4 separate regions of the Homo sapiens genome follow, and regions 1, 2 and 3 are each linked to region 4. Evidence: fine-mapped expression QTL. A gene starts in region 4. Each other region holds a variant in brackets. All regions are shown on one strand. Distances are from middle to middle. Region 1 has its middle 26 kb from the start of CDH1. Region 2 overlaps CDH1 (cadherin 1). Region 3 overlaps SNTB2 (syntrophin beta 2). Region 4 holds the start of CDH1 (cadherin 1).

Region 1 (7,419 bases), 25 kb before region 4:
GTTCCAACTTCTGTCCCCACTGTTGTCCATCCGGTAAACCACGGCCAGCCCACAGCTGACAGGGCAGGGCGCTGAGACCTCTGTGTGTCCTCCAGGAACCTGACGACCCAGGCACTCCAGGAAGACGATGCCCACTAATTACAAGAATGATAGACTGGGCGCAGTGACTCAAGACTGTAATCTCAGCAGTTTGGGAGGCCGAGGCGGGCCGGTCACTTGAGGCCAGGAGTTCAAAACCAGCCTGGCCAACAAGGTGAAAACCCATGTCTACTAAAAATACAAAAGATAGTGGGGCATGGTAGAGGGCGCCTGTAACCCTAGCTACTCCGGAGGCTGAAGCAGGAGAATCCTTGAACCTGGGAGGTGGAGGTTGCAGCAAGTCGAGATCCCACCACTGCAGTCCAGCCTGGGTGACGAGCAAAATTCCATCTCAAAAAAAAAAAAAAGATAATTAGTAGGACTTGAACAAATTAAGCAGTTACCATGTGCCAGGTAAAACGCTGAAGTTTCACTCCAAATCAAACCACGTTTCCTCAGAGCCTCTGCACTTGCTGTGCCCTCTGCCTGGCATGCCATTCCCCTAGATTTCTCTCGGCTCCCTCACGTCCTTCAGGCATCACCCACATGTCAGCCTGTCAGAGATGCCAGCCCTGAAGGGGACTGCATCCTCCTTAGAATTGCAGCCCTGCACCCCCCAATGCTTTATCTTTTCTGTCTTTCTTTCTTTTCTTTTCTTTCTTTCTTTTTCTTTTTTTTTTTCTTTTTTTTGAGACCGAGTCTCGCTCTGTCGCCCAGGCTGGAGTACAGCGGCATGATCTCAGCTCACTGAAACCTCCACCTCCCGGGTTCAGGCGATTCTCCTGCCTCAGCCTCCTGAGTAGCTGGGATTACAGGCACCTGCCACCACACCTGGCTAATTTTTGTATTTTAGTAGAGACGGGGTTTTACCATGTTGGTTAGGCTGATCTCAATCTCCTGACCTCAGGTGATCCACCCACCTCGGCCTCCCAAAGTGCTGGGATTACAGGTGTGAGCTACCATGCTGGCAGATTTTTGTATTTTTTAATTAGGTACTGGGTTTCACTATGTTGACCAGACTGGTCTCAAACTCCTGAACTCAGGTGATCTGCCCACCTCAGCCTCCCAAAGTGCTGGGAGTACAGGTGTGAGCCACTGCACCCAGCCTATTTGTTGTTTTTCTGGGACAAGGTCTCACTCCATCTACTAGGCTGAGTGCAGTGGTATAATCACAGTTCACTGCAGCCTTGACCTCCTGGATTCAAGCAATCCTCCCACCTCAGCCTGCTGAATAGCTGGGACTACAGGTGTGTACCACCACCCCCAGCTGATTTTTTGTTTTTGGTAAGGAAGGGGTCTCACTGTGTTGCCCAGGCTGGTCTCGATCTGGCTTCAAGCCATCCTCCCTCCTGGGCCTCCCAAAGTGTTGGGATTACAGGCACGAGCCCCTGCACCCGGCGCAGAAGCACTCTTGTCAATTAGAGTGCTGGCAAGCAAGAGAGGCAAGCTCAAAAGGTGACCGGAGAAGGGTTCATGGAGGTGCAGTCTACAGTGGGGTGAGCAGGGTTGCAGGGTCTCCCTCCGTCACCCAGGCTGGAGTACAGTGGCACAATCTCGGCTTACTGCAACCTCTGCCTCCCAGGTTCAAGCGATTCTACTACCTAAGCCTCCCAAGGTGCTGGGATTGTAGGCGCCCTCCACCACGCCCGGCTAATTTTTGTATTTTTAGTGGAGACAAGGTTTCGCCATATTGGCTAGGCTGGTTTCAAGCGACCCACTCACCTCGGCCTTCCAAAGTGCTGGGATTACAGGCGTGAGCCACCGCGCCTGGCCTCCTTTTTCTGTCTCCTTCATTTCTAAAGACGGCACCATCATCAGCCCAGCTGCCCAAACCAGAAACCTAAACACCTTGTCCTCAACTCCTTCCTTTTATTGACTGCCCATGCTGATCATCCATGGAGTCCTCCCAGATATCCTGGAATTCAACCACTTCTGTCCATTCTCCACCACCACCTTTGTCCCAGCCACCAGCACCCCAACTGGGATGGCCACAATGGCCTCTGCGCTGGTTAATTCCCCGTTTCCCCCAGATCCACTCTCTTCCCTTCTTCCCGCTGCTCTGCAACCAGGAGGCAGCCCTAGCTGCCCTGTGTTCTGGATTAGGTTGGTTACATTGGGGGAAGGAACCCACAGGAGATGGGGCGGGAAGGAGGGGAAGTGGCAGTATCCCTCCGCCTGCTCCCTCCCTGCCGGGCTGGGTTTGGCACTGGCTGCGCTCTGCACCCTCTATGGCCACAGCTCCTGTCATGTGGACCCTCTTCCATGGCTCCAACACTCCCTGGGGTCTGAAAGGCAGTTTCTGCACTTGCCCTGTTAGGACTAAGGGCTGCCCTGGCTTCCCATTTGCTAGTCTGAGGATGCCTCGCCATCCCAGCTGGTCACCCTAACCGAGTGGTTCTCAACCAGGGGTAGTTATGCCATCTCAGGGGATATTTGGCAATGTCTGGAGTCATTTGTGGTTGTTACCACTGGAGTGGGGGTGCTACTGGCATCTAATGAGTAGAGGCCAGAGATGTTGCTAAACCCCCTACAATGCACAGGACAGCCCCCACAGCACATGATCCTCCCTCTGAAAAGTCAATAGAGCTTAGATTGAAAAACTATGGCTGGGCGCGGTGGCTCACGCCTGTAATCCCAGCACTTTGGAAGGCCGAGGCAGGCGGATCGCTTGAGACCAGCCTGGCCAACATGGCAAAACCCCGTCTCTACTAAAAATACAAAAATTAGCCGAGTGTGGTGGCGGGCGCCTGTAATTCCAGCTACTCAGGAGGCCGGGGCAGGAGTAATCGTTTGAACCCAGGAGGCAGAGGTTGCAGTGAGCCGAGATTGAGTGACTGCACTCCAGCCTGGGCGACAGAGCGAGATTCTGTCTCAGAAGAAAAAAGGAGAGAAAGAGAAAAAGGGAGAGAGAGAGAGAAAGAAGAAAAGAAGAAAGGAAGAAAGGAGAGAGGGAAGGAGAGAAGGGAGGGGAGGGGAGGAGAGGGGAGGGGAGGGGAAGGAGGGGGGAGGGGGGAGGGGACGGGAGGAAAGGGGAGGGGAGGGGAGGGGAGGGGAGGAGAGAAGGCGAGGTGGCTCATGCCTGTAATCCCAGCACTTTGGGAGGCCAAGGTGGACGGATCCACTGAGGTCGGGAGTTTGAGACCAGCCTGACCAACATGGAGAAACCCTGTCCCTACTAAAAATACAAAACTAGCCGGGCATGGTGACGCATGCCTGTAATCCCAGCTACTCGGGAGGCTGAGGCAGGAGAATCGCTTGAACCCAGAAGGCGGAGGTTGCCGTGAGCTGGGTTGCGGCATTGCACTCCAGCCTGGGCAACAAAAGTGAAACTCCAGCAGAGAGAGAGAGAGGGAGAAAGAGAAAAAAAGAAAGAAAAAGAAAGAAAAGGAAAGAAGAAAGAAAGAGAAAGAGCAGGTGTGAGGAGGGCAGTGCAGAGTTCTGGGCATTTTGAACACTTGGAGGCGGCTGGGGGACCTGTGAGTGAGGAAGTTCAGGTGCAGCAGGGCTACCCAAGGTTACACAGGTGAGGAACTGCACACAGGGCTGGCTGCACGCAGGGCTGGCTGCGCCCATGCCAGGGACGGTATGGTGCCGGTTTCCCACAGCCTCTGTTCTGCTTCCCACTGGAGAGGGGAC[G/A]GGGAAGTGGCCAGCAGCTGGAGAGGAAGGGAAAGGGGAAGTGGTGGTCCCGTGGGAACTTACATCCTTTATTTCATCTTCTTTGCCTCCCCACTGGGGTGGTTTCCCAGGAAGAGAAGTAAAAGCTGAGGGGTGAGGCCTGAGTAGGGGGCACGAGGGCGAGGGCATGGGCACTGACTCACAGAGAGGAGCAGAGGAACCCTGCTTGTGTCACCTTTCAGTATCGGACAGTGGAGTGGGAGGATAAGAGGAACAAGGCAGCCCTGTCTACTCTGGGTGCAGCCCAGGGATGGAGGAGCAGCCAGTGCTCCCAGGACAGCCCTAAGATGGAAGTTTTGAGAGTGCACCCTCCACCCTGCATGATCCTAGGAAGCTAGGAGTCCAGAGATGTTCCTTGTGTTTTGTTTGTTTCTTGGGTTTTTTTGTTTTCTTTTTTTTTTTTTTTTTTGAGACAGACTCTCGCGATGTCACCCAGGCTGACGTGCAGTGGCACAATCCCAGCTCACTGCAGCCTCAACCCCCCAGGCTCGAGCAATCCTCCCATTCGGCCTCCCGAGTAGCTGGCACTACAGGTGCATGTGACTATGCCTGGCTAATTTTTGTACTTTTTATAGAGATGGGGTTTCTCCATGTTATCCAGGCTGGTTTCCAACTCCTGGGCTCAAGCAATCCTCCCACCTTGACCTCCTAAATCCTGGGATTACAGGCGTGAGCCATCACACCCGGCCCAGAGAGGTTTCAACAAGAGCAGCTGGAGCTGGGAGTAAACAGTGGCCAAGCAGAATTTCAAAAGAAAATAATAATAAAGCTACGATAATAGCAACAATAATAATAATGGTCATAATAATTATAATAACCTTGTCTTAAAAGCATTCTAAGAGCGGGTAGTCTATGGGTACATTTTCTCTTATCTGGCTCCAATCAGGTGGCCAGAGTGATCTGATCTTTCTAAGATGAAAATCCAATACCATAACATTGTGCAGATGGTGAAGATGTTATAATCCCCATTTGACAGATATGGGAGAACGGTGGGAGAACTTGGCTGAAATTTGAACTCAGGACCTCTCAATTCCCAGGTTCCTTTTTTTTTTTGAGATGGCGACTCCCTCTGTCACCCAGGCTGGAGTGCAGTGGCTCGATCTTGGCTCACTGCAACCTCCGCCTCCCGGGTTCAAGCAATTCTCCTGCCTCAGCCTCCCAAGTAGCTGGGATTACAGGCCTGTGCCACCATGCCCAGCTAATTTTTGTATTTTTAGTAGAGTTGGGGTTTCACCATGTTGGCCAGGCTGGTCTCGAACTCCTGACCTCAGGTGATCCACCCGCCTCAGCCTCCCAAAGTGCTGGGATTAAAGGCATGAGCTACCGTGCCTGGTCAATTCCAAGGTTCTTAAGCAGCCCCCTCGCAGCCAGTGCAGCATCCTCCCTTTCTGATCTGTCTCCCCTCCTCCTGTGATCTCCCCGCCCTTCTGTCCCTCCTCTCCCCACTCTCTGTGTCTCTATGGAAATGAAGTCAAGATTGTTTTTGGTTGACTACTCTTTATGACCCTTGAAAAACATTTTAAATGTTGATCTATCTCATACATTGTTTCCGTCAAGGAAAAACAATAAAATTAAGTCGCTTCACTTTTATATGTCTCCCCCTGTCTCTTTTGCCCCACTAATAATTCAGTTGACCCTCAATAAAGGGGGAAAAAGTTCCCTAATCCTAATCAACAAGCATATCGGGTTGCTCTTCTTCCTGCTGGCTGAGGCGGGAGCAAGTTTATTTTTCCAGGGATTTTAGACATCCCGACCCTGGAGCTGCCAGGGAATAGTGTCAAGGTGTTGATTTCAAGTGTTTCAGAGTCTGCTTACAAACCCTCCACCCCTCCTCTCGGTGCCCACCTCCCCTGACCTAGGCCAAACCCCCAGATTTCTTGTTGAGATGATTGCAGGAGCCTCCCAGCTGTGCTCCCTGCTTCCCAAGGACTCCTCCTCCAGCTATGCCAGAGTGACCTTTCCGGAACGCAGATCCCATCACATCCCTTCTCTGCTTAAACACTTCCGTTCTGTTCCCATGACCTACTGGACAAGGGCCAAGCAGCATGTCATTGGACGCCCTTCAAATCCCAGCCTAGGTTGACCTTATAGCCCTGGCTCCTGCCCACTGTCCCGCTCCCCAGGTACAGACCACACAGCCACACTGGGCAATGCACCCTTCCTGGAATATAGGCCTTCCTGCTGCTTTACCTTTGCTTGTGCTGTTTCCCCTACCTGGTGTGCCTTTTCTTCTCACCCCATCCCTGCCCAAATCTGATCAATTTTTATTCTATTTATTATTATTATTATTATTATTATTATTTTGGAGACAGAGTTTCGCTCTGTCACCCAGGCTGGAGTGCGGTGGCTCGATCTCAGCTCACTGCAACCTCCGCCCCCTGGGTTCAAGCAATCCTCCTGCCTCAGCCTCCCAAGTAGCTGGGATTACAGGTACACGCTACCATGCCCAGCTAATTTTTATATTTTTAGTAGAGACGGGGTTTCATTATGTTGGCCAGGCTGGTCTCGAACTCCTGACGTCAGGTGATCTGCCCACCCTGGCCTCCCAAAGTGGTGGGATTATAGGCGTGAGCCACCGCACCCAGCCCCCCAGTTAGATCTTGAGCTCACTGAGCACCTTTGCCTAATTATGTTCAGCCTCTACCCTCACCCCAGCACCAAGCACAGGACCTGAGACCCAGGCAGGTGCTGAGAAATCGGAATTGAAATCCAGGACTGAAAACCTTCTGTGAATTCCATCACCACATTCCCAGCAAAGGGAGTTAATGGCTGGTCTCTAGTCTCTCAACGACTTTGCCTCTGCCTTAGCCTACAAGCAGCTTAGTTCCTGCCAAAATGTCATTTTTTTCCCCAGGAAGCCTTCTGGATTTAGTATTCCTCCCCTAGAGTTTTCTTAGCATCTGTATGAATACACCCAGCACACAGAATTGTAATTGTCTCTTTACCTGTCCATTTCCCCAACCAGTCTGAGGGACTGTGATCTCGCCCACCGAAGGTCCCTGGTGATAGGTAATAGCTGTAGAGCACTTTCAGCTACCAAATGTATTCCGAGCACTTTATGTGTACTACCTCATTTAAGTATCAAGACAAGGCCGGGTTCAGTGGTTTGTCTGTAATCCCAGCGCTTTGGGAAGCGGAGGCAGGAGGATTGCTTGAAGCCAGGACTAGCCTGGGTCAACATAGCAAGACTTCATCATTACAAAAATTTAAAAATTAGCCAGGCATGGTGGCCCGTGTCTGTAGTCCCAGCCACTTGGGAGGCTGAGGCAGGATCACTTGATCCCAGGAGTTTGAGGCTGGCAGTGAGCTATGATTGGGCCACTGCACTCTAGCCTGGGCGATAGAACAAGACCCTGTCTCAAAAAATAAAAAGTATCAGGACAACCTCATAAGAGAGGTACTATTAGCTCCATTTTACGGAGGGGCAAACCAAAGTCAGAGAAGTTCTAAACTTGCCCAATGCCACACACCCAGGAAGTAGCAGAAAGGGAATTTGAGGCCGGGCGCCATGACTCACGCCTGTAATCCCAACTCTTTGGAAGGCTGAGGTGAGCAGATCACTCGAAGCCAGGAGTTCGAGACCAGCCGTGCCAACATAGCAAAACCCCATCTCTACTAAAAATACAAAAAATTAGCCAGGCATAGTGGTGCAGCCCTGTAGTCCCA
Region 2 (7,419 bases), 74 kb after region 4:
GGATTCAAAGCCAGGCAGTCTAGCTCCAGAGCCTGCCCTTGGCGCAGGCTGGGCTGCCTCTCTAGGAGACAAACACAGGATGTAGAGGGCAGAGAGCATAGGTGTGTGCGCATGTGTGCACATGTGGCCAGTGTGCAGCATTGGGGAAGGGCTCTGTGATGATACCTGGTCATATCTCACATGTATCTGGTGCATCTTCAATCTTAAAGCCAGAAAATAGAGCTGAACTCAAACTTGGCAAGCAGTGATCAGTGACTGTGAGTTTTTATGTGGAGGGTGAGAGATGGAATTTTCCCCTGGAAACTTTACTGTGTTACCAGTAATCACCTTAAAACACTTAAACAATTTGGCAAATATTTTCCTTCCATTTTCAACTCTCTTATTTCCCTGCATGTGCATAAAGTTATCTTTATTGCATATGAAAACTGTTCAATACAAGTCTCAAAGGGTGTTTTTGGCTTCCATCCCAACAGCTTCTGTTAGAACAAATGGAAACCATATAGACATAATGATACAGTGAGATGAAGAGATTTATATTGATCACAAAGTAGTTCTTAGTACAAGTTCTCAAAATCTACTTGTTTTGGGATAACTCCACGTTGAGGACCTGTGTCCCCAAGAAAAATATAAAAGAGGCTGGGTGCGGTGACTCACACCTGTAATCCCAGCAAATTGGGAAGCCAAAGCAGGAGAATCGCTTGAGCCCAGGAGTTCGAGACCAGTCTGGGCAAGATGGCAAGACCCTGCCTCTAAAAAAATTTAAAAAATTTAAAAAATTAGGTGCACATGGTGGTGCATGGTGGTGGATGCCTGTAGTTCCAGCTACTTGGTAGGCTGAGGTCAGAGGCTTGCCTGAGCTCAGGAGTTCAAGGCTGCAGTGAGCTTTGATCACTTCACTGCACTCCAGCCTGGGTGACAGAGCAAGACCCTGTCTCTATTTAAAAAAAGAAAAGAAAAGAAATCGAAAACCCAAATATTCAGTTGTTGAGTAAGCTCTGATATTAAATCATCAGAGTATAATGTTGCTGTTAAAAATTATATTATGGGCTGGGTGTGGTGGCTCATGCCTGTAATCCCAGCATTTTGGGAGGCCACATTGCTTAAGCTTACAAGTTCGAGACCAGCCTGGGTAACATGGCAAAGCCCTACGTCTACTAAAAATACAAAAATTAGTCAGCCATGGTGGTGCACACCTGTAGTCCCAGCTACTCAGGAGGCTGAGATGGGAGGGATGGCTTGAGCCTGGGAGGCAGAGGTTCCAGTGAGACAAGATCTTGCCGCTGTACCCCAGCCTCAGTGATAGAGCCAGATCTTGTCTCAAAAAAATAAAAATGAGATTATGTAGGCTTGAAACAGCTTGTAAATTATAATATCAAACCCTGAAACCAATACTTGTGTATGCATGATGATTATTTGAGCTCTGGACACTAAGAAGGATAAAAAGAGAATGCAGTCTTTACGATATAGCAAAGGGTCTCATTGGTTTTTGTTTTGATTGGTCATTTTGGTGGATATATATAATTTGTCATTGATAAGAGAATGTGTCATTAAATTCAAACTGTACACTGCCCACAGAAGGCTGGGGACGCTGTCTGGCTAGGTTGGACTGTTAGACCTGAAGTATCCGTCTTGAATTGTCTTATCTTGTTCCTCATCTTCTTTCCTTTTAGGCCTCCGTTTCTGGAATCCAAGCAGAATTGCTCACATTTCCCAACTCCTCTCCTGGCCTCAGAAGACAGAAGAGAGACTGGGTTATTCCTCCCATCAGCTGCCCAGAAAATGAAAAAGGCCCATTTCCTAAAAACCTGGTTCAGGTAGAGAAAGAAGTTCTCTGTTTCTCTGGGAGGGATTTGGCAGAGAAGTACCAAGGAGAGAAAGGGAAAAGACCCAGTGTTGGGATCCTTCTTTACTAATTCTTTTTCTTTCATTTTGTCTTCAGATCAAATCCAACAAAGACAAAGAAGGCAAGGTTTTCTACAGCATCACTGGCCAAGGAGCTGACACACCCCCTGTTGGTGTCTTTATTATTGAAAGAGAAACAGGATGGCTGAAGGTGACAGAGCCTCTGGATAGAGAACGCATTGCCACATACACTGTAAGTATCTCTTAGAAGCTTGTTGACACCGGGGTAACATCCACCCAGGATTTTTTGGTCAACCCATGCTGGATCCGCAGATCAGAGGCTCTGAACACATGAGGAGCTTAACTTGACACCTCTTGACCTGTTGCTAAGGAGAAGTGATGGGAGAACGTGGGACAGTTTGGGGTTGTTAATTTTTCTCCTTGTCAGGAAGAAAGGAAGGAGAATCCGCATGCATCCTCATACAACCAGGACAAATTTAGACCCAAGATGTCAACCTGTTCTTGGGGCTGGAAGTCCCTGACCTAAAGGAACAGGACAGTGATGATATAAGGGAGCAAAACCCATTTCTTGGGCTTGGCAGCAGCAAGAGCTTAGGAAAACCAAGAGGTCTTTTTTTTTTTTTTTTGAGATAGGGTTTCACTCTGTCACCCAGGCTGGAACCACAACCTCCACTTCCCGGGTTCAAGTGATTCTCCTGCTTCAACCTCCCGAGTAGCTGGATTATAGGCAGCTGCCATCATGCCCAGCTAATTTTTTGCGTTTTTATTAGAGATGAGGTTTTACCATGTTGGCCAGAGTGGTCTCAAACTCCTGACCTCAGGCGATTCACCCTACTTGGCCTCCCAAAGTGCTGGGATTACAGGAGGGAGCCACTGCACCCGGCCTACAAGAGGTCATTTGTTTTTGTTTTGGATTTTTGTTTTTTTGAGACCGAGTCTACCTGTGTCACTCAAGCTGGAATGCAGTGGTACAATCTTAGCTCACTGCAGCCTGGACCTTCTGGGCCCAAGCGACACTCCCACCCCATCTTCCTGAGTAGCTGAGACTAAAGGCGCAGGCCACCACACCCAGTTAATTTTTGTATTTTTTGTAGAAACAAGATCTTGCTATGTTGCCCAGGCTGGTCTTGAAATCTTGAGCTCAAGCAATCTGCCCACCTCGGCCTCCCAAAGTGCTGAGATTACATGAACCACTATGCCTGGCCAGGAAGTCATATATTGATGCCAAATTCAGAAATATCTGGGGGAAATGCTAGACTAAAAGGACCAGAGCAAGTTTCACCCGGCATGGAATAAGAGTTTTTCAGGCCCGCATCTTCATCTCTAGGCCTGATGCCCTGGTCCTCGTGTGGGAAATGGGAGGTCTGAGCCGTGGGGGGTGTTCTCCAGCCCATGGCTCTTACCTTGTTATAATCTCACTGAAGCAGCAGCAGCACATGTGTGAGAAAAGTCACCCACTGGGGGTCTCAGAGCCTAGGAAGGTGTGGCAGCCAGGGG[G/A]GCGCACTCTGCTCTGGCTGGGCCCCTTCTCCCATGTTTTCTTCCTCATCAGAGCTCAAGTCACCCTCACTTGGTTCTTTCAGCTCTTCTCTCACGCTGTGTCATCCAACGGGAATGCAGTTGAGGATCCAATGGAGATTTTGATCACGGTAACCGATCAGAATGACAACAAGCCCGAATTCACCCAGGAGGTCTTTAAGGGGTCTGTCATGGAAGGTGCTCTTCCAGGTATATCCACTAATGAGAATCTGAATACTCAGAAAGACTCTTAGGTTCTTTGGACCCCAAAGTGTTGTCCAAGCCCAAAGGTTGTGTAACTAAAGCTGATCCTTCCTACGGACAGAACTTCTTGGCAAGCCATTGTTGTGTTATATGCATGTGTGTAACAGTCTACCTGTGGAAACATATAAAATAGGGAGAGTTTAAGAACAATCTTCCCTTTTTTATTATTAATTTTTTTTTTTTTTAGGCTGGGCATGGTGGCTCATGCCTGTAATCCCAGCACTTTGGGAGGCCAAGGTGGATGGGTCACCTGTGCTCAGGAGTTCAAGACCAGCCTGACCAACATGGTGAAACCTCGTCTCTATTAAAAATACAAAAAAATTAGCCGGTCGTGGTGGCGGGGGCCTGTAATCCCAGCTACTTGGGAGGCTGAGGCAGGAGAATTGCTTGAACCCGGGAGGCGGGGGTTGCAGTAAGCTGAGATCACGCCACTGCACTCCAGCCTGGGTGACAGATCCAGACTCCGTCTCAAAAAAAAAAAAATTTTTTTTTCAGAGACAGGGTCTTGCTTTGTTGTCCAGGCTACTTTCAAACTCCCGGGCCCAAGCAATCCTCCCACCTCAGCCCCACAAGCTGCTAAGATTATAGGCATGAGCTACTATACCTGGCTAAGAACAACCTTCCTAATTAAGGAACAGATCTTTACCAGTACCTTAAAGCCCTAAACAATCCCCCTTGGTCACATTCTTTTCTCTCCTCCATAAAGATAACCACACCCTAGGCTGGGTGTGGTGGTTCACACCTGTAACCCCAGCACTTTGGGAGGCCAAGGTGGGCAAATCACTTGAGGTCAGGAGTTTGAGACCAGCCTGACCAACATGGAGAAACCCTGTCTCTACTAAAAATAGAAAATTAGCTGGGCGTGGCGACGCATGCCTATAATTCCAGATACTTGGGAGGCTGAAGCAGGAGAATTGCTTGAACCCGGGAGACAGAGATTGTGGTGAGCCGAATCACGCCATTGCATTCCAGCCTGGGCAACAGGAGCAAAACTCCGTCTCAAAAAAAAAAAAAAAAAAAAAGATAACCACACCCTGACTTTTGTGGTAATCATTCCCTTTCTTTTCTTTATTACCATTTGTGTATTTATACCTGGATAATAAGTTGATAGTTTGAGCTTTCTTTCTCCCCTAGCACTTTGGTAAGAATTCTAGGAATTAGGGAACTCTGACACGGTACCACCCCCATGTCCCCTCCTTTATCCCTCAGGGCAGAATTGGATTAAGCAGTATTGACCCAGTCCCAAAGTGCAGCTTGTCTAAACCTTCATCTCCTTGAACTCTTCCAGGAACCTCTGTGATGGAGGTCACAGCCACAGACGCGGACGATGATGTGAACACCTACAATGCCGCCATCGCTTACACCATCCTCAGCCAAGATCCTGAGCTCCCTGACAAAAATATGTTCACCATTAACAGGAACACAGGAGTCATCAGTGTGGTCACCACTGGGCTGGACCGAGAGGTCAGGGGTCAGGAGGATCCAGAGGGTGTGGAGGACAAATGTGTATTAGCTCAATCCCGTGGACAAAGCAAAATCCTGCTAGGCCAGTTGTCAGTTAATACAGTGATGGTCTAAGCTTTGCATCTAAGCTTGTGCCCAGAGGTTCCGTGCCTAGAAGACAGGCAGGCTGGCATGAAGCACATGGTTAAATATTCTGGTTCCATGTGTTGGGCTGGGCTAGGCCAAAGGTGGCTAGTGTTCCTGGTCCTGACTTGGTTGTGTCGATCTCTCTGCAGAGTTTCCCTACGTATACCCTGGTGGTTCAAGCTGCTGACCTTCAAGGTGAGGGGTTAAGCACAACAGCAACAGCTGTGATCACAGTCACTGACACCAACGATAATCCTCCGATCTTCAATCCCACCACGGTAATTCTATAACTCCTTAGAGGGTTTCCAAAGAAAGGTCTTTTGTTGTTCATGAACTAAGTGTCACCACTGCTCATGGGCGAAGTCTTTGAAAACTCTCTCCAGACTAGAGAATGTTAACTTTAAACTTAAAAGCAAGCATCTTGAGATGGCAGTTGTCTTTTAGTATCTTTTTTCCACCCTTGGCCTGGGGCCAATTGGTGCAAGATTGTGAAGTTGCAAAAAGCACCTACTGATTTCATAGTCTCATGGTACATTTTTATAGCAAATATTACCTGGTTTCATTTCTTTATTGAACAAATATTTTCTAAGTTTATATTAGGCACTGTGTTAGACACTGGAGAGACCATCACACACAAAGATTCCATTCTCATGGTGTTTCTGGTATAGCCAGGAAGACATCTTATGAGAATTATTGTATGCCAAGGATATTACATGCATTCAAGGAGAAGGTATTGAGAACCAAGTAGGGTAAGTTTAAATCATCCTGTATAATGGCCAGGCGTGGTGGCTCACACCTGTAATCTAGCAAGTTGAGAGGCCAAGGCTGGTGGATCCCTTGAGGATGGAGTTTGAGACCAGCCTGGCCAACGTGGCGAAACTCCATCTCCACTAAAAATACAAAAATTAGCTGGGCGTGGTGGTGCATGCTTGTAATCCCAGCTACTCGGGCATCTGAGGCATGAGAGTTGCTTGAACCCAGGAGGCGGAGGCTGCAGTGAGCCGAGATTGTACCATTGCACCCCAGTGCGCCCATTGCCTGGCCTCTCCTTGTCACATCTTCTCCTTGAAGCTTGCTTTCAGTTAGCCAGGTGTGGTGGTGCATGCCTGTGGTCCCAGCTACTCTGGAGGCTGAGGTGGGAGGATTGCTTGAGCCCAGGAGGTTGAGGCTACAGTGAGCCATGATCGCTCAAATACACTCCAGCCTGGTGACAGTGAGATCTTATCTCAAAAGAACAACAAAAAAAGAGGAATCCTTTAGCCCCCTGAGACTCAGCTCTGCTAGCAGTCTTGGTACTTTGTAAATGACACATCTCTTTGCTCTGCAGTACAAGGGTCAGGTGCCTGAGAACGAGGCTAACGTCGTAATCACCACACTGAAAGTGACTGATGCTGATGCCCCCAATACCCCAGCGTGGGAGGCTGTATACACCATATTGAATGATGATGGTGGACAATTTGTCGTCACCACAAATCCAGTGAACAACGATGGCATTTTGAAAACAGCAAAGGTTTGTATGGTACCTGGCAAGATGCAGAAACTGGCATCCTCACAGCTGTTCATACCCTTGTCCCCTGGTATCTTCTTAGAAGTAGATTCGCTTTGGCAGGGGGACAGGGTGACTTTCCCAGATTGTAGTGGACCATGTGGGATTTGCAGTGGCTCTTCCTGCTCATGTAAGAAATCAAGAAACTGTGCTGTGTGTGGTGGCTCACGCCTGTAATCCCAGCACTTAGGGACGCTGAGGCAGGCAGATCACGAGGTCAGGAGTTTGAGTCTCTGCTAAAAATACAAAAATTAGCCAGGCATGGTGGCACGTGCCTGTAATCTCAGCTACTAGGGAGGCTGAGGCAGGAGAATTGCTTGAACCTGGGAGGTGGAGGTTGCAGTGAGCCAAGATCGTGCCATTGCACTCCAGCTCTGGGTGACAGAGCAAGACTCAGTCTCCAGGGGTGGGCGGGGAAAAGGAGGCCGGGCGTGGTGGCTCACGCCTGTAATCATAGCACTTTGGGAGGCCAAGGCGGGCAGATCACAAGGTCAAGAGATCGAGATCATCCTGACCAACATGGTGAAACCCCATCTCTACTAAAAATACAAAAATTAGCTGGGCATGGTGGTGTGCACCTATAGTCCCAGCTACTAGGGAGGCTGAGGCAGGAGAATCGCTTGAACCTAGGAGAGGGAGGT
Region 3 (7,419 bases), 520 kb after region 4:
TTTTTAAAAAATCCCCTTTAAGTTTGGTGGTGACTTCTTACATACAACCCCAAAAGCACAATCCATAAAGAAAAAACTTGACAAGTTGAACCTCTTTAAAATTTAAAACTTCAGCCCTGCAAAAGACACTGAAGAGAATGAAAAGACAAGCCACACATTGGGAAGAAATCTTTACAAAATACATATCCAATAAAGGACTGGTATCCCAAATATACAGAGGGACCAAGCACAGTGGCTCATGCCTATAATCCTAGCACTTTAGGAGGCCAGGGCAGGAGGGTCACTTGAGCCCAGGAGTTCAAGACCAGCCTGGCAACATAGTGAGACCCTGTCTCTACAAAAAATTTTTTTTTAAAGTAGTTGGGTGTGGTGGTGCACATCTGTGGTAGTCCCAGTTAACTGGGAGGCTGAGGTGGGAGGATCACTTGAGACCTGTATGGTCAAGGCTGCAATGGGCTCTTAGGATGGAAGAATTTCTGCCCAGTAATCTGTGTCCCTACTGATGACTTCTGTGTGTAGTCTCATTCTTCTTGCATTCAATTAAATCTCACCAGGCCATTTCTGTCTTTATTGTAATTCATCTCACATCCCACCATAAAATTATTTTATTATTATTTTTATTTTATTTATTTATTTTTTAGAGACAGGATCTCGCTCTGTCACCCAGGCTGGAGTACAGTGGTACTATCATAGCTCACTCTAGCCTCGAACTCCTGTGCTCAAGAGATCTTCCCGCCTCAGCCTCGCTAGTAGCTAGGACTGCAGATGTATGTCACCATGCCTGGCTGATAAAAAAAAATTTGAGGGCCGTGCACAGTGGCTCACGCCTGTAACCCCAGCACTTTGGGAGGCCAAGGTGGGCGGATCACGAGGTCAGGAGATCGAAACCATCTGGCTAACATGGTGAAACCCCGTATCTACTAAAAATACAAAAAATTAGCCTGGCATGGTGGTGGTGCCTGTAGTCACAACTACTCGAGAGGCTGAGGCAAAAGAATGGCGTGAACCTGGGAGGCGGAGCTTGCAGTGAGCCGAGATCACGACACTGCACTCCAGCCTGGGCGAAAGAGCCAGACTCCGTCTTAAAAAAAAAAAAAAGAAAGAAAGAAAAATTTTTTGTTGGGGCTGGGCACGATGGTTCATACCTATAATCCCAATACTTTGGGAGGCTGAGGCGGGTGGATCACCTGAGGTCAGGAATTTCAGACCAGCCTGACCAACATGGTGAATCCCCCACTCTACTAAAGATACAAAAACTAGCCAGGCTTGGTGGCACTTCCCTGTAATCCCAGCTGGGGAGGCTGAGGCAGGAGAATCGCTTAAACCAGGAGGTGGAGGTTGCAGTGAGCTGAGACCGCGCCATTGCACTCCAGCCCGGGCAACAAGAGGTAAACTCTGTCTCAAAAAAAAAAAAAAATTGGTTGGGGTGGGGGGCGACGCAGTGGCTCACGCCTGTAATCCCAGCACTTTGGGAAGCTGAGGCGGGCGGATCATGAGGTCAGGAGTTCGAGACCAGCCTGGCCAACATAGTGAAACCCCGTCTCTACTAAAAGTACAAAAACTAGCCATGCGTGGTGGCCGGCGCCTGTAGTCCCAGCTACTCGGGAGGCTGAGGCAGGAGAATCGCTTGAAACCAGAAAGCAGAGGTTGCAGTGAGCCAAGATCGGGCCACTGCACTCCAGCCTGGGTGAAAGAGCGAAACTCCGTCTCAAAAAAAAAAGTTTTGTAGAGATGGGTTCTCACTTTGTTGCCTAGGCTGGTCTCAAACTCCTGGCTTCAAGTGATTTCCCCGCCTCAGCCTCCCCAAAGTGTTGGGATTACAGGCATGAGTCACTGTACTTGGCCTAATTTTTTTTAAATTGTAAAATACACATAACATGAAATTTCTTAATCATTTTTAAGTGTACAGGTCAGAAGTGTTAAGTATATTCATATTTTTGTACAACCAATGTCCAGAAATTTTTCTTCTTGCAAAACTAAAATACTCTACTCATTGAAAAACTCCCCATTTCACCCTTCCTTCAGCTCCTGGCACTTACCATTCTGCTTTCTGTGAGTTTGCTCTAGATACTTCATGAAAGTAGGCTCATATGTTATTTCTTCTTTCGTGACTGGCTTATTTTACTAGTATAATATCCTCAATGTTGATGCATGTTGTAACATGTGTTAGGATTTCTTTCCTTATTAAGGCTGAATAATGCCATTATATGTATATACTGCATTTTGTTTATCTGTTCCTCCATTGATGGACATTTGGGTTGCTTCCACCTTTTGGCTATTGTGAATGATGCTGCTATAAACATGGGTGTACAAATGTCTCATAAAATTATTTTTTAAGTTAATTGTTTTGATCATGTTGCCCTCCTGTTGAGAATTCTAAATGATTCTATGTTATTAATAGTTACCAATTAAGGCCAGGCACAGTGGCTCACGCCTGTAATACCAGCACTTTGGGAGACCGAGGCAGGCGGATCACTTGAGGTCAGGAGTTCGAGACCAGCCTGGCCAACATGGTGAAACCCTGTCTCTACTAAAAATACAAAAAATTAGCCAGGCTTGGTGGCATGTACCTGTAATCCCAGCTACTTGGGAGGCTGAGGCAGGAGAATCGCTTGAACCCGGCAGTCAGAGGTTTCAGTGAGCTGAGATCGTGCCACTGTACTCCAGCCTGGGCGAAGAGCGAGACTCCATCTCAAAAAAAAAAAAAAAAAGTTACCAATTAATATTCAGACCTAACCTGCTATTCAAGATCCTCTAAATTCTGGAACCAAGCTATGTCTTAATATGTTTAGGTATAGAATAGGAAATCAAAGAGCTCATCAGAACTGTATCTAAATAAAAAGCAAATAGCTTAAAACTTTTTATCTGAAAGTTTTCCTCTGAGTAACATGAACTTTCAAATATGGACTTTTCTTAAGCCCTTTGGCTGTTCATGACTCTTATTTATTTATTTATTTATTTATTTATTTATTTATTTATTTATTTTC[T/C]TGAGACGGAGTCTTGCTCTGCTGCCCAGGCTGGAGTGCAGTGGCATGATCTCGGCTCACTGCAAGCTCCGCCTCCGGGTTCATGCCATTCTTCTGCCTCAGCCTCCCGAGTAGCTGGGACTACAGGCGCCCACCACCACGCCCGGCTAATTTTTTGTGTTTTTAATAGAGACGGGGTTTCACCATGTTAGCCAGGATGGTTTCGATCTGCTGACCTTGTTATCCACCTGCCTCGGCCTCCCAAAGTGCTGGGATTACAGGCGTAAGCCACCGCGCCCAGCCACAACTCTTATTTTATGTCTTCTATTTTCTAGAACTTTTGTCCTATTTTGCTGTTACCATAGAACTTTGACAGCATATAAAAGATGGATAGACTGGTAGGTAGGCCTGGAAGTAGCTAGATGATCTACTTTTTTCATCACTGTATCTCCAATACCAGTGCCTAGCACAATATTTGGCATGTAGTAGGTGCTCAATAAATGTTTATTTAAGAAAGGATAGACCAACCAGAATTCAAATGAAAATGAATATTTGCAATACAAAATATGACAATTTAAAGTATTTGGAGTTATAAAGGGTTTAGAAACTGACAAAAGAGCTTCAAAGCAGAAATGCTAGTATACTTGTAAATTGCTTATCTTTTTGACAAGTGGCATAGAATCTGATGATAGTGCTTTTAGGCAGCAAAAACTGTCTTCAGAAAATAATGTAAAGAAAACTCTCTCCCTGGTCATTGGCAGTTTGTCAATTTGTAGCCTACCATGAAAAACACTAAAGGCTTTTTTTTTCCATTTTAAAAGATATATATGTTCACAGCAGAGTATATATCTTAGTCATTTATTTATTTATTTGACTTTTAAAATTCATCTTTGCAAGAACTTTGATTGAAACACAAAACAATATTCAATAGATTGCTTTATAAATAATTTTTTCAATGTATATTTAAAATATTTTAGCTATTTTCTAAAGGTTACTTTTGAAATACAGATTGCTCTTGGTGAGCATTAATACAGAACAGTTATAGTGTTGATCTCTTAACTATTTTTCTACCTAATTCACTGGAGGAGTAATCATATAAAAGTACCCAAACACAGTTTCAAATTTTACAGAGTAATAATCTTCTGCTAATTTTCTTGTTCTTTCTTTTTTTTTTTTTTTTTTTTTTTTGAGAGGGAGTCTCGCTTTGTCGCCCAGGCTGGAGTGCAGTGGTGCAATCTTGGCTCACTGCAACCTCCAGCTCCTGGGTTCAAGCAATTCTCCTGCCTCAGCCTCCTCAGTAGCTGGGATTACAGGCATGTGCCATCACGCCTGGCTAATTTTTGTATATTTTAGTAGAGACAGGGTTTAGCCATGTTGGCCAGGCTGGTCTCAAACTCCTGACCTGAGGTGATCTGCCCATCTCAGCCTCCCAAAGTGCTGAGATTACAAGCGTGAGCCACCATGCCTGGCCGCTAATTTTCTATTTATTTCACATAATGTAAATTTCAGTTCATTATATGGCAGTACATCTTTTTAAGCTGGCACTACTTTATACCAGAATTTCCTAAATGCTTAAAAGGGTATCAGTTCCTTCTTTACAGTGTGCCTATGTGGTTCAGCAAGCATGCTTTTCATTTTTTAGACATAGAAATTAAGGCAAAGTGATCTACTGTAGACTCTACAGTAAGTTCCCTCAGCTTATTACATTAACACCGAAACGACAGATCCAGCAGTTGGTGTTTCTTTTTTTAATTTTTTCTCAGGTTCAGTAACTAGCCCAAGTTGGTCTTTCTGATTTTTTTTTTTTTTTTTTTTTTTTTTTTGAGACAGAGTTTCGCTCTGTCACCTAGGCTGGATCTCGGCTCACTGCAACCTCCACCTCCCTGGTTCAGGCAGTTCCCCTGCCTCAGCCTCCCGAGTAGCTGGGATTACAGGCACACGCCCCAACGCCCGGCTAAATTTTTTGTATTTTTGGTAGAGTCAAGGTTTCACTGTGTTGGCCAGACTGGCCTCAAACTCCTGACCTCAGGCAATCTGCCCGCCTTGGCCTCCCAAAGTGCTGAGATTACCGGAGTGAGCCACCGTGCCCGGCCTCTGATTTTTATCTTTCCATGTGTTGTTTTCTTTGGAACTGGACTCTAGGGAATTAAGAGAAAGTATCTTTTTTTTTTTTTTTTTTTGAGACGGAATCTCGCTCTGTCGCCCAGGCTGGAGTACAGTGGTGTGATCTTGGCTCACTGCAACCTCCGCCTCCTGGGGTCAAGCGATTCTCCTGCCTTAGCCTCAGCTTCCTGAGTAGCTGGGATTACAGGCACCCACCACCATGTCCGGCTAATTTTTTATATATTAGCAGAGACAGAGTTTCACCGTGTTGCCCAGGCTGGTCTCGAACTCCTGAGCTCAGGCAATCCCCCTGCCTTGGCCTCCCAAAGTGCTAGTATTACAGGCATGAGCCACCGTGCCCAGCCAAGAAAGTATCTTTATTTGAGTATACAAATTTATTTGAAGAATGCAAAATTAAAATAGATTTGCAGTTATGTATTTTAAACCTGGCAGGTTTGGTGACTTCTGTCCTAGCTCACTTTTTTTTTTTTCTTTTTCCACACAGATTGATAGAGCTACATTCTCCTGATAGCAGGAACACGTTGATCCTACGCTGCAAAGATACAGCCACAGCACACTCCTGGTTCGTAGCTATCCACACCAACATAATGGCTCTCCTCCCACAGGTGTTGGCTGAACTCAACGCCATGCTTGGGGCAACCAGTACAGCAGGAGGCAGTAAAGAGGTGAAGCATATTGCCTGGCTGGCAGAACAGGTAGGCTGGGAGGCAGGGCAGAGTATCACCTGGTTCCCATTCAGTGCCAGGATGGTTCCTCATTTAATATATCTGTAATACTTACCATGCAGTTAGGACCTGGATATCTAGCTTGCAGATCTTTTGTTTTTCAGTGTTTTGTTTCACCTCCCTTTTTCTCCTTCTACCTTTGTCTATTTGTTGCTAATTATCCACTCAACCAGAAGTAGCTGACATAGTAATCACTATCATACTATTACTAAAGAAGTTCTTATTACCATCTCTGTCCTTAATGACAGAGGATAATTTTCATGATTTTAGATCAGGGTCAGCTAACTTTTTCTGTAAAGGGCAAGATAGCGTCACGGCTACTTGACTCTTCTGTTGTAGCAAGACAACTGTCATAGGCAATAGGAAAATGAATGGGTGTGACTGCGTTTCAGTAAAACTTTATTTACAAAGACAAGTAAACTGGTGGTTGGCTGGATCTGGCCCAAGTGTCATAGTTTCCCAACCCTTGTTCCCTACTGGAAGAGCTTCTAGGGGCAGCAGGCTATAGTTGATTCCTCTGCTCTGGGAAAAGTATAAAATATACAAAATACTTTACAATTAGACAGAGGTACAATTGTCTTCCATAACTGAAAAGTGAAAAAAAGAGAAACAAGAAAGTCTGAGTGGATGTTGAGTTAAAGGAAAAGAACTTGAAAACCCAGGTTATTTTAGATCCCAGGTTTGACAAAAGGAGAGTAAAAGTTCCGTGTGACATTATGTTACATCTTTTTTCTTCACCATCAACTAGGCTAGAGGGGCTTGAAAAAAAAGGACTGGACTAGGGGGTTCAGAGATGAGTGTTTAAGTGCTAGCTCTGTTTTTCACTGCTTTTGAGTCTTTTCGAAACTTACGTTTTGAATCCTAGTTGTGTGTGCAAAGGGCCAGGGAGTGGACTAAATAACTGGTTTCCAAAAAAGCAGAATCAGCACAGGAAGGATTTTGTTCTTTCATTTTTGATTTTTTTTTTTCAAGTACAGTTTCCCACTGGTTCCCACCTTCCTCCCCAACATAGTTCTAACTTTTTTTTTTTTTAAGTTGAGGTTGATTTTATTTGAGGAGGATATTGTCCCCAAAGCAGTTCTGATGTGGTAGGTCTGTGGGTGGTGCCTGGTGATCTTGGTGGTACCAAGTAATTGTGGTAATTGAGGGGCCAATTTTGGTCACCAGCGAGAGTAATTTTTTTATTTTATTTTTTGCCACTTCTCAACTTTTTATGAACATTTCAAATAAAATTATAATAAATGAGAATGTAATATTAGTACAGTGATCATTTCTATAAAGCATAATTAGAATAAAAAATTAATGAAAGTCATGATATAAGTACTTATGACTTTGAAAATTTTAACATTTTAGTTGTGTTTATCATTGTTTCTATATTTTATATGCTAGTTGAAAAACTGAATTGAATAGTAATTGTTCTGTGCTTTTGGCATTGTTCAAAATCCTCATGATTTTAAAAAGGTAGCACGTTCACATGGTTGAAAAATCAAACAAAAAATTAATGGGTGAAAACTCTTGCCCTCATTCCCGTTACCTATCCACCTGTTATGCCTTTTGCCCTGGAAAGGTAACAACTCTTATTCCTTTCTATTGAATCTTTTGAG
Region 4 (7,308 bases):
CAGAGTGTTTACAAGAACCTTATGAATTAAGTGCTATCAACATTCCCATTTTACAGATGAGGAAACCAAGATGGTGGAGATAAAATGACTTATGCTTCTCAACTAATGGCAGAGCCAGAAGTGAATCCAGGCTGGAGTGAAGTGGCTCCAGTGCTCAAATGATCCTCCTACCTCAGCCTCCAGAGTAGCTGGGACTACAGGCATGCACTGCCATGTCCAGCTAATTCAAAATAATATTTGTTGGGGAGATGGGGTTTCACCATGTTGCCCAGACTGGTCTCAAACTCCTGGGCTCAAGTAATCTTCTCACCTCCCAACTAGCCTCCCAAAGTGCTGCGATTACAGTTGTGAGCCACCAGGCCTGCTTAGGTATCCCTGTTTGATACAAGAGAAAACAGAGGGCAGGCACAGTGGCTCACACCTGTAATCCCAGCACTTTGGGAGGCTGAGGTAGGTGGATCACTTGAGGTCAGGAGTTTGAGACCAGCCTGGCCAACATGGCGAAATCCCGTCTCTACTAAAATACAAAAATTAGCCAGACATGGTGACGTGTGTCTGTAATCACAGCTACTCAGGAGGCTGAGGCACAAGAATCTCTTGAACCTGGGAGGCAGAGAGTGCAGTGAGCCGAGATCGCGCCATTGCACTCCAGCCGGGGCAACAGAGCAAGACCTTGTCACTAAATAAATAAATAGGAAACAGAGAAGCAATTCAGTGTGTTGCGAAAGTCACACAGCACCTGTCTTCCACAAGGAGCCCCTCTGTGTTCCCGCCTCACCCTGGACACCTGATCTACTGTCTTTGGAGCTTGGAGAAGGACTTGCCGAGAAGTCTGAAGAATGCATCAGGCCTGACCTGACTTTGCTGCCCCTAATTGTTTTCTAAAATCCTTTTTATTGAATTATCAGAGTGTAATGGAAGAGTCGATGAGAGTCGCTGCAGAGTTACGAGGCCAAGGCTTGCTGGGTAGAAGAAAGTAAAGCCCTAAAGGCTCCCAGGGCCCAGCGATGGTATAAAATATGTATTTTTACATAACTGAGAGGAAAAAAATAAGCAGACAGTACAGCCCCATGGGGGAAACGCCTCTTTCTGTATTTCCATTATCTTGTTCAAGGCACGATCCTAGTGGGAAAGGAAATACCGGAGCCTTCTCCCTCTGAGCCTCCTGGTGGGTTAAGAGCAGAGGGAGCCAAAATACGACATCCAAAAGACCTGATTGGAAACTCATTAAAATTGAGGGGACAGGTTGTTGGGGGGGGCGGTGCTGGGCTGCCCAGAAATCGTCTGCATTTGAGAAATTACTTGATGGACTCAGAGGCACCTTTAGCTCTGGGTGAAATATTCCAAACATGGCTTTCCCCAGGAGGAAGCGAAATAGGGGCTGGGCCTTTTGAAAGAGTAACCCCTACTCCAAATATTTATTGAGCAGTTGCTATGATGAGCCAAGAACTCTGCTTAGCGATTGTTTTTGTATTAGCTCATGCCAATTCACTTATACAAAGGAGAACACTGACTTCCCCAAGGTCACAGGGCTAGTGAGTGGCTGACTCCACTTAATGCTGTGTAGTTCTAACCATGCTTGAAGGATAAAGGGAAAGGAGGTGCCCTTGTCGGGGTAGACAAGCCACCCAGACGTGGCTGGCCACAGGGAGTCAGACAGGGAAGTTGTCTAACCTAACATTTGCCTGTCTATTCTGTTTTTGTCTTTTGATGGAGGACGGCGGGTGCTGGAGGGCCACTGGCCCAGGACCTGAGACCTTTGGCCCCTATCTATTCTATTTTTGATCCTAAAATTATTTCACTGGGGACAGAATTCTCTGGAGAAGGTGATGGTGGCCATGGTGTGGCTGTGGCATTAAAAGCCCCACTCTGGGGGTCAGAAGATCCTGGGTTTTGGTCTTTGGCTTTGACATTGACCTGCCTATGTGACATTGAACAAGTTATTTGCAAATCATAGGTTTGGGTGAACTCTAAAGGTCTCTTCCAGGTCAACATCAAAAAACAGACTGAAAACTGCAGCTCCAGCTGGAAGACTGGGACCACATGAGATGAAGCTGATTGTTAGAAGAAAGGCCCTGGAATCAGAGAGGTTGGTTCCAGTCCTGCGCCACCTCTCATTGGCCTCAATCTCTCTAAGCTTCAGTTGCCCATCTATCATATGGGAATAATAATACAGCTCTTGGGTTGTTTTGAAATGAGCTTAAATGAGCTGGTCAGTGGCTGGGCACGGTGGCTCATGCCTGTAATCCCAGCACTTTGGGAGGCTGAGGCAGGTGGATCATCTGAGGACAGGAGTTCAAGACCAGCCTGGCCAACATGATGAAACCCTGTCTCTACTAAAAATACAAAAATTAGCCAGTCGTGGTGGCGCATGCCTGTAATCCCAGCTACTCAGGAGGCTGATAGAGGAGAACCGCTTGAACCCAAGAGGCGAAGGTTGCAGTGAGCCAAGAACACACCATTGCACTCCAGCCTGGGCGACAGAGCAGGACTCCGTCTCAAAAAAAAAAGAGCTGGTCAGTGTCAAATGCTTAGCACAGAGACTGGCACAGTAATCTTCAATGTCCAGCACCTATTGTTACTATTTTTTTTTTTTTTTTTTTTTTGAGACAGAGTCTTGCTCTGTCGCCCAGGCTGGAGTACAGTGGCGCGATCTCGGCTCACTGCAAGCTCCACCTCCCAGGTTCATGCCATTCTCCTGCCTCAGCCTCCCGAGTAGCTGGGACTACAGGCGCCCACCACCACGCCTGGCTAATTTTTTGTATTTTTAGTAGAGACGGGGTTTCACTGCGTTAGCCAGGATGGTCTCAATCTCCTGACCTCGTGATCTGCCCGCCTCGGCCTCCCAAAGTGCTGGGATTACAGGCGTGAGCCACCATGCCTGGCCCTATTGTTACTATTTTTACCCCTCACTTCTGTACAGAGCATTTATGGCTCAAGAAACATTTGTCATTTTAATTGTATGGGAGTCCCACAACAGCATAGGGAGACATTTCTGATCATTATTCCCATTAGGAGGGTGGAGAAACTGAGGCTTTGGGAGGTGGTCCTGACCTAGGGAATCAATTTGCTGACTCACTAACCCATGAAGCTCTACAGTTAAAAAAGACTAGATTAAAAAATGAGAACTCAGTAAAGGGGCTGAGGCAGGAGGATCGCCTGAGTTCAGAAATTTGAGATCAGCCTCGGCAACATAGTGAGATCCCCTCTCTAGAAAAATTTTTTAAAAAATTAGGCCGCTCGAGGCAGAGTGCAGTGGCTCACGCCTGTAATCCAACACTTCAGGAGGCTGAAGAGGGTGGATCACCTGAGGTCAGGAGTTCCAGACCAGCCTGGCCAACATGGTGAAACCCCGTCTGTACTAAAAATACAAAATTAGCCGGTGTGGTGGCACACGCCTGTAGTCCCAGCTACTCAATAGGCTGAGACAGGAGAGTCTCTTGAACCCGGCAGGCGGAGGTTGCAGTGAGCCGAGATCGTGCCACTGCACTCCAGCCTGGGCAAGACAGAGCGAGACTCCGTCTCAAAAAATACAAACAAAACAAACAAACAAAAAATTAGGCTGCTAGCTCAGTGGCTCATGGCTCACACCTGAAATCCTAGCACTTTGGGAGGCCAAGGCAGGAGGATCGCTTCAGCCCAGGAGTTCGAGACCAGGCTGGGCAATACAGGGAGACACAGCGCCCCCACTGCCCCTGTCCGCCCCGACTTGTCTCTCTACAAAAAGGCAAAAGAAAAAAAAATTAGCCTGGCGTGGTGGTGTGCACCTGTACTCCCAGCTACTAGAGAGGCTGGGGCCAGAGGACCGCTTGAGCCCAGGAGTTCGAGGCTGCAGTGAGCTGTGATCGCACCACTGCACTCCAGCTTGGGTGAAAGAGTGAGACCCCATCTCCAAAACGAACAAACAAAAAATCCCAAAAAACAAAAGAACTCAGCCAAGTGTAAAAGCCCTTTCTGATCCCAGGTCTTAGTGAGCCACCGGCGGGGCTGGGATTCGAACCCAGTGGAATCAGAACCGTGCAGGTCCCATAACCCACCTAGACCCTAGCAACTCCAGGCTAGAGGGTCACCGCGTCTATGCGAGGCCGGGTGGGCGGGCCGTCAGCTCCGCCCTGGGGAGGGGTCCGCGCTGCTGATTGGCTGTGGCCGGCAGGTGAACCCTCAGCCAATCAGCGGTACGGGGGGCGGTGCCTCCGGGGCTCACCTGGCTGCAGCCACGCACCCCCTCTCAGTGGCGTCGGAACTGCAAAGCACCTGTGAGCTTGCGGAAGTCAGTTCAGACTCCAGCCCGCTCCAGCCCGGCCCGACCCGACCGCACCCGGCGCCTGCCCTCGCTCGGCGTCCCCGGCCAGCCATGGGCCCTTGGAGCCGCAGCCTCTCGGCGCTGCTGCTGCTGCTGCAGGTACCCCGGATCCCCTGACTTGCGAGGGACGCATTCGGGCCGCAAGCTCCGCGCCCCAGCCCTGCGCCCCTTCCTCTCCCGTCGTCACCGCTTCCCTTCTTCCAAGAAAGTTCGGGTCCTGAGGAGCGGAGCGGCCTGGAAGCCTCGCGCGCTCCGGACCCCCCAGTGATGGGAGTGGGGGGTGGGTGGTGAGGGGCGAGCGCGGCTTTCCTGCCCCCTCCAGCGCAGACCGAGGCGGGGGCGTCTGGCCGCGGAGTCCGCGGGGTGGGCTCGCGCGGGCGGTGGGGGCGTGAAGCGGGGTGTAGGGGGTGGGGTGTGGAGAAGGGGTGCCCTGGTGCAAGTCGAGGGGGAGCCAGGAGTCGTGGGGACGATCTTCGAGGGAAGGAGAGGGGCATCCGTAGAAATAAAGGCACCTGCCATGCCAAGAAAGGTCGTAAATAGGAGTGAGGGTCCCGGGGATAAGAAAGTGAGGTCGGAGGAGGTGGGAGCGCCCCTCGCTCTGAGGAGTGGTGCATTCCCGGTCTAAGGAAAGTGGGGTACTGGAGAATAAAGACATCTCCAATAAAATGAGAAAGGAGACTGAAAGGGAACGGTGGGCTAGGTCTTGAGGGGGTGACTCGGCGGCCCCCTCCCGGGAGTTCCTGGGGGCTCGGCGGCCGTAGGTTTCGGGGTGGGGGAGGGTGACGTCGCTGCCCGCCCGTCCCGGGGCTGCGGGCTGGGGTCCTCCCCCAATCCCGACGCCGGGAGCGAGGGAGGGGCGGCGCTGTTGGTTTCGGTGAGCAGGAGGGAACCCTCCGAGTCACCCGGTTCCATCTACCTTTCCCCCACCCCAGGTCTCCTCTTGGCTCTGCCAGGAGCCGGAGCCCTGCCACCCTGGCTTTGACGCCGAGAGCTACACGTTCACGGTGCCCCGGCGCCACCTGGAGAGAGGCCGCGTCCTGGGCAGAGGTGAGGGCGCGCTGCCGGTGTCCCTGGGCGGAGTAGGGAGGGGTTGGAAAGGGGCCGAGAAATTGCACTCCCACACCCCTGGGTTGCAATGGGCAAGCTCCCTCCTTGGCTCAAACGACACCCCTTGGAATTTACGCAGATTTGGGGATCCAAACGTTTACGACTGAACACTGTGGTGGAGGGGGTAACCCTGCCTGGTTGTTGACTATGTTATAAAGAAGAGGAGGTTGAGGGCACTTACTAGAAGCCTTCGTATTTCTCTTATTGCCCTCAGCACTGTAGAGACAGTCTCTCATTTCAGACTGCAAAAACCTGGTGGGTGGGAAGGCCTGGCAGGAGTATTCCCGTTTTACAGTTGAGCAAACCGAGGCTAAGAGAGTGACGTCCACTTGCTCAGGGTCAGCAGAGCAGATATCTGAACTGGGATCTGACTCCCAGGCCCCATTAAGCACCATCTCTGGGATGACTGAAGAGCAGCCCTCTCTTGGTTACTGGGCTGTGGCTTTTGTTTACAGATATAAAAGCTTTTTTTTTTTTTTTTTTTTTTTTTTTTAAAGACAGGGTCTTGCTCTGTTGCCCAAGCTGGAGTGCAGTGGCACAATCATAGCTTACTGCAGCCTCCATCCTCTGGGCTCAAGTGATCCTTCCCATCTCAGCCTCCCTAGTAGCTGGTTATCATGGGCATGTGCCACCACACCTGGATAATTTTAACTTTTTTTTAGGCTGGGCGCAGTGGCTAACGCCTGTAATCCCAGCACTTTGGGAGGCCGAGGTGGGCGGATCACAAGGTCAGGAGTTCGAGACCAGCCTGGCCAACATGGTGAAACCCCATCTCTACTAAATAAAAATATAAAAATTAGCCGGGCATGGTGGCGTGTGCCTGTAATCCTAGCTACTCAGGAGGCTGAGGCAGGAGAATTGCTTAAACCCAGGAGGCAGAGGTTGCAGTGAGCTGAGATAGTGCCACCGCACTCCAACCTGGGTGACAGAGCAAGACTCCGTCTCAAAAAATAAATAAAAAATAAATTTTTTTTTAGAGACAGGAGTCTCTCCATGTTGCCCATGCTGGTGTTGAACTCTTGGGCTCAAAGGATCCTTCTGTCTCAGCCTCTCAAAGTGCTGGGATTGCAGGCCTGAGAGACTGTGCCTGGACCAAAACATCTTGATACAGGTACTGTTTCCCCCAAGGAATAATGATTTTTTTTTTTTTTTTTTTTTTTGAGATGGAGTTTTACTCTTGTTGCCCAGGCTGGAGTGTAATGGCGTGATCTCGGCTCACTGCCACCTCTGGCTCCCAGGTTCAAGTGATTCTCCTGCCTCAGCCTCCTGAGTAGCTGGGATTACAGGTGCCACCACCATGCCCAGCTAATTTTTTGTAGTTTTAGCAGAGAAGGGGTTTCACCATGTTGGCCAGGCTGGTCTGGATCTCCTGACCTCAGGTGACCCACCTGCCTCAATCTCCCAAAGTGCTGGGATTACAGGCATGAGCCAGCACGCCTGGCCAGGAATAATGATCTTTTTTTAAAAAAAGCATGGTAGTTCTGACTCAGGATGAAAATGCATACACCCAATGTACTTCTAGGCCTTATCGTTGTGACAATCTAGAGTTTGCTTTGTTCCACTTGACTGTTGTCCAGGGAGCAAGGGAAGGGGCTAGTTTCTCTTCTGGTTTCACTGAATCCCAAGTGCTTCCTTTATATCAAACCACTTTCTCCTCTCTCATGATTTTACTTGATTGGGTATCACAATAAGAGGCATTTTTTTTTTAAGAGAAATCACCCACAATTCCCCTGAGGGAACACCTCCACTGTGTCATTCTTCCAGTCTTTGACCACATGAATCTTTAGCAATCACGCTGTTGTCTTTACATTTTTTTTTTGAACTTTGGAAGTCATTCGAAGTTTTTTACAGAGAAACTACAGCTCGACTGATGAAGTATATTTGCTCTGTGTGCTCTA

Evidence for each region.
Region 1: its variant is fine-mapped to the expression of CDH1 in whole blood (TOPMed, PIP 0.98).
Region 2: its variant is fine-mapped to the expression of CDH1 in whole blood (INTERVAL, PIP 0.99).
Region 3: its variant is fine-mapped to the expression of CDH1 in whole blood (INTERVAL, PIP 0.95).

The regions. Positions count from the first base shown.
Region 1 is chr16:68,707,894-68,715,312 of GRCh38, forward strand. It overlaps a transcript of CDH3 not described here. Among named protein-coding and RNA genes, the nearest start is that of CDH1, 26 kb to the right of the region's middle. RefSeq lists enhancers at 1-45, 2,975-3,476, 3,477-3,976, 6,355-6,499, 7,188-7,332, silencers at 3,567-3,736, 3,807-3,856, 3,887-3,936 and cis regulatory regions at 6,427, 7,260-7,261. The variant G/A (reference allele first, on the strand shown) is at 3,715.
Region 2 is chr16:68,806,754-68,814,172 of GRCh38, forward strand. It overlaps CDH1 (cadherin 1), which reads left to right. Exons shown (of 16, transcript NM_004360.5): 4 at 1,671-1,814; 5 at 1,940-2,095; 6 at 3,444-3,588; 7 at 4,931-5,106; 8 at 5,382-5,510; 9 at 6,560-6,742. Among named protein-coding and RNA genes, the nearest start is that of TANGO6, 33 kb to the right of the region's middle. The variant G/A (reference allele first, on the strand shown) is at 3,361.
Region 3 is chr16:69,254,476-69,261,894 of GRCh38, forward strand. It overlaps SNTB2 (syntrophin beta 2), which reads left to right. Exons shown (of 7, transcript NM_006750.4): 3 at 5,575-5,785. Among named protein-coding and RNA genes, the nearest start is that of VPS4A, 53 kb to the right of the region's middle. The variant T/C (reference allele first, on the strand shown) is at 2,988.
Region 4 is chr16:68,733,062-68,740,369 of GRCh38, forward strand. CDH1 (cadherin 1) reads left to right here and starts at 4,231. Exons shown (of 16, transcript NM_004360.5): 1 at 4,231-4,402; 2 at 5,236-5,350. The coding sequence starts at 4,355. It also overlaps a transcript of CDH3 not described here. RefSeq lists enhancers at 1-204, 3,252-3,396, a cis regulatory region at 3,324 and a silencer at 4,277-4,346.